Homo sapiens: one gene and its partner. The protein of the gene in region 1 purifies or fractionates together with the protein of each later gene. This does not show direct contact. Each region holds a gene or a part of one and is shown in the gene's direction. Other genes may lie near its edges.

What was found.
Region 2: the proteins of HACD1 (region 1) and CSE1L purify together in Homo sapiens (affinity purification with mass spectrometry; one large-scale study listed by BioGRID and IntAct). This does not show direct contact.

The regions. Positions count from the first base shown.
Region 1 is NC_000010.11:17,603,007-17,608,374, reverse strand, and holds part of HACD1 (very-long-chain (3R)-3-hydroxyacyl-CoA dehydratase 1), read left to right. Parts: intron 1-4,327; coding exon 4,328-4,445; intron 4,446-4,630; coding exon 4,631-4,649; intron 4,650-4,726; coding exon 4,727-4,815; intron 4,816-5,368.
Region 2 is NC_000020.11:49,093,440-49,097,505, forward strand, and holds the end of CSE1L (exportin-2), read left to right. Parts: intron 1-700; coding exon 701-847; intron 848-1,292; coding exon 1,293-1,524; intron 1,525-2,736; coding exon of another isoform or gene 2,737-2,748; exon of another isoform or gene 2,749-2,909; coding exon 2,910-2,999; 3' UTR 3,000-3,510; downstream 3,511-4,066. UniProt on the Homo sapiens protein: Export receptor for importin-alpha. Mediates importin-alpha re-export from the nucleus to the cytoplasm after import substrates (cargos) have been released into the nucleoplasm.

The DNA.
Region 1 (5,368 bases):
TAGCCAATGATCATCAGTAACTGCTAGCATCACAAAAGAGAGAGTCTGGCCAGGCGCAGTGGCTCACACCGGTAATCCCATTACTTTGGGAGACTGAGGCAGGCAGATGGCTTGAGCCCAGGAGTTCAAGATTAGCCTGGGCAACATAGGGAGACCCCATCTCTACTAAAAAAAACCCCACAACAGCAAGAACAATAATGAGCCAGGTATGGTGGTACACCCCTGTGGTCCCAGCTACTCGAGAGGCTGAGGTGGGAAGATTGCTGAAGCCTGGGAACCCAAGGCTGCCATGAGCCATGGGCACACCACTCACTCCAGCCTGCGGGACAGAGCGAGAATCTGTCTAAAAAAAAAAATCCTAATTGCAGAAATTCCAGTTGCTTTTGAAATATTTTCTGTTTGTTTTATTATAGTTACTAAACCGATAGATGAAGGAAGTTCAAAACTAGTTCAATATAGGACCCTTAAAGAGACTTTCTTTGACTGTCACCCTTTCTGATGGAGGGCTTAGGAAGTGAACCCTGATTCAATTGGCTCCTGGCCTTACTTAGGAAAAACAGACAAGAGGTTAGAATAGATGTTTCGATGGGTCCTTTCAAATCCCTGAGCCTGTCAATTTCTTTTATTTCCCACAGTTTAGTGAGTGGCACGATCATGATACTATGCTAGGTGGTACAATACTGCCACCTATGGAGCAACAGTAGAACTTGTTATAATGTTAACGATGCATGGATTTTTATACAATGCTGTTTAAAAATGTAGAAAACTTGCCATCCAAATGACTCCTTTGATTGGTAGGTTAATAACTGCCTCTCAAACTTATCTTTTGTGGACATCTGATTTGGGTTCACCTAAAAAAGACAAGTGTATGGAAAATGTGAATGAAAATATCTTAATAAACTTTTTGTTTTCTTAGTAGAAGAAATATGGGGACTTTGAATTGAAGATAATGAAATCATAATACTTTAGTTGTGGAAGGTACCTAAAGCATGATTCCGATGAGTGCTGTAGGATCAGTCCAGTTCAGTGTTGGCGCTCACATGAGATGGATCCATCAGTTGTAGCCACAGTGAAGCTGGGGTAGAGTGGAAAGGGGTCAGGACTAGGGAGTCTAGAGACTGCAGAGGTTCTATTACAGACTCAGTCATGAACTTACTCTAAGACTCAGGGTAAGTAACTGAATGTTCTGGAAGATGATTATCTCATCTAAAAGAGTGGCCTTCAAACTTTTTGGATAGCATGCTACTATCAATTAAAATATTTGAGCATAGACTCTCCATATAACTTTAAAAATATATTTATAATGTAAATATGAATTGCTATCATTAACTGGTATCTCAGGGCACAGTATATACTTAGAGCCAGACCGACACAGCATAGTGGCTTAAGAGCATATACTCCGAGCTTAGTGGTGGCTGTGTGACCCTCTCTGCCTATTTCCTCAGTAGTGAAATAGGATAATAGAAGACCCTCGCCTCATAGGGTTATTGTGAGGATTTGAGGTTAATATGTTATGAATTGAAAACAGTGTCTAAGACATAGAAAGCACTCTGACAATACACTTATTATTGTCATTGTTATTATCATGAATATGTCTGCATTTCAAAGGTCCTTGTGGTCCTTTCAGATATTTACTTGACTTCTTGCCAATCTGATAAACAAGTCATTGCTTTTACCTTATTATGTTCTAAGAATAGAAGTGTCATTCTGCCATCTTATTATTCTCTTGAGAATGCATTTTCATCAGATTCAGTTAGTAGATTCTTTGCAGGAATCTTTTCAAGCCATTTGTCCACTGTATGAGTGTTCTTTGATTAAAAAAGTTAAAACTGCATGATAATTTTATATTTCATAAATCTACTTACTAGACTCTTTGGAGACTATCTAAAAGACTAGGGTAGCTCCTCATTTCCCTGGGTGAGTTATTAGAGCTTTTAAAAAGTTACAGATGAGGTAAGTTGCTTAAACTTAAACGTGCTTTTGGAATTGCAGGGGAAACTGGAAAAAAATAAACTTCTTATTGGTGACTTTAGGAAGAGTAAGAAGTAGTATGAGAAAGCTGGTCTCCACAACTCTAGCTTATATTTAAAGCACGATTATTATTCACAGAACATAAGCTATATTTATATGCAAACGTAAGTTTAAAAGCGAGGGCATATAGTATTTTTTTCTTTCTTTTTTCTTTCTCTCTCTCTTGTTTTTTTTGAGACAGGGTCTTTGTTGCACAGCCTGGACTGCAGTGGCACAAACATAGCTTACTGCAACCAGCGCCTCTGTGCTCAAGTGATCCTCCCACCTCAGCCTTCCAAGTAGCTGGAACCACAGGCATGTGCCGCCATGCCTCTAAAATTTTTTTTTTTTGTAGAGACGGGATCTTGCCATGTTGCCCAGGCTGTTTTTTTCTTTTCTTTTCTTTTTTTTGAGACAGAGTCTCACTCTGTCACCCAGGCTGGAGTGCAGTGGCACCATCTCAGCTCACTGCAACCTCCGCCTCATGGGTTCAAACAATTCTCCTGCCTCAGCCTCCCGAGTAGCTGGCACTATAGGTGCCCACCGGCACACCCGGCTAAGTTTTGTATTTTTAATAGAGATGGGGTTTTGCTATGTTGGCCAGGCTGGTCTCAAACTCCGGACCTCAGGTGATCCACCCACCTCAACCTTCCAAGGTGTTGGGATTACAGGGGTGAGCCACTATGCCTGGCCTCTTCTTTTGTTTTTTTTTTTTTAAACAACCTTTTTGAAAGCAGGCCCATGGCTGATCTTCTATCTGTGGCTCAGCAATTGTTGTTGTTGTTGTTTTTAGTGAAAATTAAGTAAATATTAATTGATGACTTTTTTTTTTTTTTTCCCGAGATGGAGTCTTGCTCTGTCACCCAGGCTGGAATGCAGTGGCGTGATCTTGGCTCACTGCAACCTCCACTTCCCAGGTTGGAGCAATTCTCCTGCCTCAGCCTCCGGAGTAGCTGGGACTACAGGTGTGCGCCACCATGCTTGGCTAATTTTCGTATTTTTAGTAGAGACAGGGTTTCACCATGTTGGCCAGACTGGTCTCAAACCTCTGGCCTCAGGTGATCCACCTGCCTCGGCCTCCCAAAGTGCTGGGATTGCAGGTGTGAGCCACTGCACCCGGCCCATCTTAACTTTTTAAAGTGTAAGTTCAGTGGCATTAAGTACATTCACATTTTTGTGTAACCATTACTTCCTTCTGTCTCCATAACTTTTCATCTTGCAAAACTGAAACTCTGCACCCAGTGAACGCTAACTCCTCATTGCCCCATCTGTCCCCAGCCCCTAGCCACCACTATCCTACTTTCTGTCTCTATGAATTTGACTACCCTGTGTATACCTCATATAAATTAAATCATACAGGCTGGGCATGGTGGCTCACTCCATGTAATCCCAGCACTTTGGGAGGCTGAGGTGGATGGATCACTTGAGTTCAGGAGTTTGAGACCAGCCTGGGCAACATGGCGAAAACCCATATCTACAAAAAATACAAAAATTAGCTGGATATGATGGCGCACACCTGTAGACCCAGCTATGGGGAAGGCTGAGATGGGAGGATCGCTTGAGCCCTGGACGTCAAGGCAGCAGTGAGGCAAGACTGCGCCACTGCCCTTCAGCCAGGGTGACAGAGCGAGACCCTGTCTCAATCAATCAGCCAATAATTGTTCTTTGTTAAAGATGACAGCAACACATAATGCAAAAAAAGAAATTTTTTAAAGAAAAAAATGATCATACAGTATTAGTCCTTTTGTGCCTAGCTTATTTCACATAGCATAAGGTCTTCAAGGTTTATCCGTGTTGCATGATATGTCAGAATTTCTTTTTCTTTTTAAGGCTAATATTCTATTGTCTGTATAGACCACATTTCTTTTTTTTTTTTTTTTTTTTGAGACGGACAGCTCTGTCGCCCAGGCTAGAGTGCAGTGGCGTGATCTTGCCTCACTGCAAGCTCCGCCTCCCAGGTTCACACCATTCTCCTGCCTCAGCCTCCTGAGTAGCTGGGACTCAGGCGCCCGCCACCACACCCGGCTAATTTTTTGTATTTTTAGTAGAGACGGGGTTTCACCGTGTTAGCCAGGATGGTCTCGATCTCCTGACCTCGTGATCCGCCCGTCTTGGCCTCCCAAAGTGCGGGGATTACAGGCATGAGCCACCGTGCCAGGCCTGTATAGACCACATTTCAAGTATCCATTCACTCACTTATGGACACCTGGGTTGCTTTTACCTTTTCACTATTTTGAATAACGCTGCTGTAAACACAAATGTATAAATCAGTGGTATTAAGTTCGAAAGAACTTTATGAAATACTTTTTTTTTTTAGGTGGTTGGTTCTAGCTATTGCCATGGTACGTTTTTATATGGAAAAAGGAACACACAGAGGTTTATATAAAAGTATTCAGAAGACACTTAAATTTTTCCAGACATTTGCCTTGCTTGAGGTAAGTTTTCCATCATGCTGTTTTTCTATTGCTGTAATATTTATGTGAACATTTTTTGTTGTGCAAAATCAATATGATTTTGCTGATTACATACCACCTATGGATTTGCTGAATGCCAATGTTGACAGTGGTTTATTTAATGTTTTCTATTATTGACGTAATGATTTTTTTCTATTTGCTTACAGATAGTTCACTGTTTAATTGGTGAGTTTTTGCTTCAATTTTATACTTTTATTATAAATTGCCTTTAGGGCAATAGTTCACTTGTTTTTCTTTTTAAGGAATTGTACCTACTTCTGTGATTGTGACTGGGGTCCAAGTGAGTTCAAGAATCTTTATGGTGTGGCTCATTACTCACAGTATAAAACCAGTAAGTGACACAAACATGTTGTCTACTTGAGCCTGCAGGAAAGCTTTCCATTCATAGGAATCTAAAATATTAACATTTGTATATTTCAGGAGGTGGAAGTGTTGGACAAAAAGGAGTTGGGTTTGAGTTTTAGATGTTGTGCATTGACTTAGTGCCTTAGCAGAATGACTTTGATACACAAACAAACCCAAATATTGGCATCTTAGATCCGTAATATATTCTCCTTTGATATTTTCCAGTTTTTGAAATCAGTATTCAGGTTCTGTCAAATAACCTGCAGAAAATGTTCTTTTCTATAGAAGTTTCTTTTCAATCCAAGTTGTCCTCTTTGATTATGTAATCGAAGTTGTCAGTATACAATTTATTATTTCTGGCCAGCCGCAGTGGCCCACACCTGTAATCCCAGCACTTTGGGAGGCCAAGGCGGGTGGATCACCTGAGGTCAGGAGTTTGAGACCAGCCTGGCCAACATGGTGAAACCCTGTTCCTACTAAAAATACAAAAATTAACCAGGCGTGGGGGCGAGCACCTGGAATCCCAGCTACTCAGGAGG
Region 2 (4,066 bases), on another chromosome or scaffold:
TTAGCATTTATGTACCTGCAGGTATGTAAGCAAAGACAGTTGGGAAGCTTATAACCCAAAAATGTTAAAACTAGTTGTTTCTGGGTGGTGGGATGATTCCTTTTTTCCCTCCTTGCTCCTCTCTCTTTTTTTTTTTTTTTTCTTTTTTTTTTTTGAGACTGGCCAGGTGTAATTTTTAAAGAAAAAAGCAGAGAGGGCCAGGAATGGTGGCTCACGCCTGTAATCCTAGCACTTTGGGAGGCTGAGGCAGGTGGATCACCTGAGGTCAGGAGTTCGAGATCAGCCTGGCCAACACAATGAAACCCCATCTCTACTAAAAATACAAAAATTTGCCGGGCGTGGTGGTGGGCACCTGTAATCCCACCTACTCAGGGGGCTGAGGCAGGCAAATTGCTTGAACCCAGGAGGTGGAGGTTGTAGTGAGCTGAGATCACACCGTTCCACTCCAGCCTGGGCAACAAGAGCGAAACTCCGTCTCAAAAAAAAAAAGAAAAGAAAAAGATTATGGCATTTGGCTACAGGGTAGAGGTGTGATGGGGTTTTTTTATGTTTTGACTTTCAGTCTCTTCAGATGATCAAAAACAGCAGTCTTGTTATTTAGTAATTTATCATATTCATAAGAAGTAACTAACATCTAAGCATTTTACTATTTCATTATAGTGATAATCTAATATTAAGTTGATTTATTTTGCTTTAATAGAATGTTTGGAATGGTTTTGGAAAAAATTATTATTCCTGAAATTCAGAAGGTATCTGGAAATGTAGAGAAAAAGATCTGTGCGGTTGGCATAACCAAATTACTAACAGAATGTCCCCCAATGATGGACACTGAGTATACCAAACTGTGGTAAGTACTTCATTTTAATATTTTTGTAAGTTACAGCTTCCTTCCCATATGACTGCAAAATTAACAAAGCTTATTCTCTTGGGGGCCAAGAGAATCTTGGTCTGATCTCAGCTTCTCCACAATCAGATCCAAGACATGATTTCTGGATCCTTCTGGGCTTAGAATGATCTTGTTTCCTGCTTCTTTTTCAGGGGGATTCATGGACCCCTTTAAGAGTCTGATCTAGGTGATCTCTAAGACAATTTTATGACAGAAGCCCAACTAAACTGACTTATCTTTAAGGGGAAGAACTGAATAAGCCAAGAAAAGAACCATCTTAATTTCAAAGGTCCCCTTTTATTCTTGAGACTATGAGTCTGTAATTTTGTGTCTCTGAGCAATTGCTGGTTTTAAGTCTTCCGAGTATTTTCTTGACCTTTTTATCTCTTGCTTTCTTCCAATCCAGGACTCCATTATTACAGTCTTTGATTGGTCTTTTTGAGTTACCCGAAGATGATACCATTCCTGATGAGGAACATTTTATTGACATAGAAGATACACCAGGATATCAGACTGCCTTCTCACAGTTGGCATTTGCTGGGAAAAAAGAGCATGATCCTGTAGGTCAAATGGTGAATAACCCCAAAATTCACCTGGCACAGTCACTTCACAAGTTGTCTACCGCCTGTCCAGGAAGGGTAAGTGTGTTGTCAAAGAACTCTGTGATAAATGGAGACTTTAATGGGAGGGCAAAAGGATAGTAGTAGTTCTGGTGTCTGTTTTCATTGGTGGGCGTAATAAAACTAAATCTCATTGAGTTACAGCAAGCTTATTTTCTTTAATTAAAAACACTGAGCCCTTTTTTTCTTGTATTATGTACTACAAATATATTTTAAGTGAATGGATTTAGGAGTGAGAACAAAGGAGGAAAAATCCCTTCAATAGAAATGTAATAAGGCTGTATAGTTGCATTTTGTCAGCACTTTATAATAAGAGTTTATTTCCCAGATCGAAGTAATCCATCTATTATTAAAATGTGGTAGCATTTTTTTATTTTTATTTTTATTTATTTATTTTTTTAGACAGGGTCTCACTCTTATCCAGGCTGGAATGCAGTAGTACGATTATGGCTCACTGCAGCCTCAACCTCCCAGGTTCAAGTGATCCTACTGCCTGTCAGCCTTCCAAGTAGCTAGGACCCACTATGCCCAGCTAATTTTTTATTTTTTTGTGGAGACAGGGTCTCCCTATGTTGTTCAGGTTGGTCTCAACCTCCTGGGCTCAAGCCATCCTCCTCCCTCAGCCTCCCAAAGTGCTGGGATTACAAGTGTGAGCCTGGACACAGTTATTTTTTTTTAATTGCAGCATACTCAGAAATTAATAGATCATGGCATAAACCTAATAATGACTGTATAGTTGCATTTTGTCAGCACTTATTATAGAGTTCTTACATGTTACCTGATAAAATATATATTTTTCAAGCCAGACACAGTGGTTTATGCCTGTAGTTCTAGTGCTTTGGGAGGCCAGGGCTGCAGTGAGCTATTACAGTGCCACTGCAATCCAGCCTGGGCAACAGAGCGAGGTCCCGTTTCTTAAAAAACATATATGTGTGTGGCGTGTGTATATATATGTATATATATTTTTTCATTGTATTATTACGGAGACTTTCAAACATATATAGAAAGAGCATAATGAAGCCTGCATGTGCCCAGCTTCAATAATTACCAATATCTTGCCAGTTTTGTTTCGTTTCTCCTTTTATTCTCTGTATTGAGCAAGTCTTAGACATCATACGTTTCACGCGTAAGTACCTTATTCTACATCATTAACCAGTAAGGACTTTTTAATTAACCACAATACCACTATCACACCTAATAATAGTAATTCCTTATGGATCTTTTCTTTAGACCTATTTTTGAAGGCATAAAAGCAGTTGAGTTTCTGGAGAATTTTTGGATGGTGATTAATGACTTGACTGGCTGCTCTTCCCAGAGCTGTGGCAGCTCTCCCGTAGAAGATGGGGTTTGTATTGGCGCACCAAGATCTCCAACAGCCAGTGTGTGTTTCCCATCTCTTGTAGGTTCCATCAATGGTGAGCACCAGCCTGAATGCAGAAGCGCTCCAGTATCTCCAAGGGTACCTTCAGGCAGCCAGTGTGACACTGCTTTAAACTGCATTTTTCTAATGGGCTAAACCCAGATGGTTTCCTAGGAAATCACAGGCTTCTGAGCACAGCTGCATTAAAACAAAGGAAGTTCTCCTTTTGAACTTGTCACGAATTCCATCTTGTAAAGGATATTAAATGTTGCTTTAACCTGAACCTTGAGCAAATTAGTTGGTTTGTGTGATCATACAGTTATGTGGGTGGCTTCTAGTTTGCAACTTCAAGGGACAAGTATTAATAGTTCAGTGTATGGCGTTGGTTTGTGTTGAGCGTTTGCACGGTTTGGATAATCTTAAATTTTGACGGACACTGTGGAGACTTTCTGTTACTAAATCCTTTTGTTTTGAAGCTGTTGCTATTTGTATTTCTCTTGTCCTTTATATTTTTTGTCTGTTTATTTACGCTTTTATTGGAAATGTGAATAAGTAAAGAATTACTTGTGTTACTTGCCAAGCAGTGCACATTTCATAGTTTCAAATCTGTAATCAGCAATAAAAATCCTAAAATATGTACCTAAGAACATCTTAAGGGCAGGTTTTCAGTGCTCTCTCATGCTTTTATAAAAATGAAGAATTTCTTTAAATTTCTTCCTTTTCCTTTCCTGGACTCTGTAAAATCCTAATTTCTAAATCATGTAAACTCAGATTATTTAGTCTTTTTTTTTATATGGGGGAAGGGGACATTAATATAGATTTGGGGCTTATTTACTAGAATTTTCTGTAGCAGTTCCTAGGTGGCAGTGTGAGTTTTGGGTAGGTGGCTCCTCTGGGAGAAATGCTCTGCCTCGCTTAATGGGATGGCGGTCGAGAGTACTTGAGACTGTGGATGTTTTGATCTCTTTCATCTCTGCTGTTCCCTGGAGAGTGGAGGTTACTTGGAACTTTTCAAACCCTGACACCTTAGAACCGTGAAGTCCAGTCCAGTGGTGGATCCGGCCGGATGCCTGGTGAGCTTGGTTGCACTGGCTCCCTCCCTTGGCCTGGCCCATGGAATTGTACAGCATTCGTTTCTGAGGAATGAAGAATCAGAATATCTAAATTTTGTGAGGCACAGTTTATGCTGGAATTGTTCAT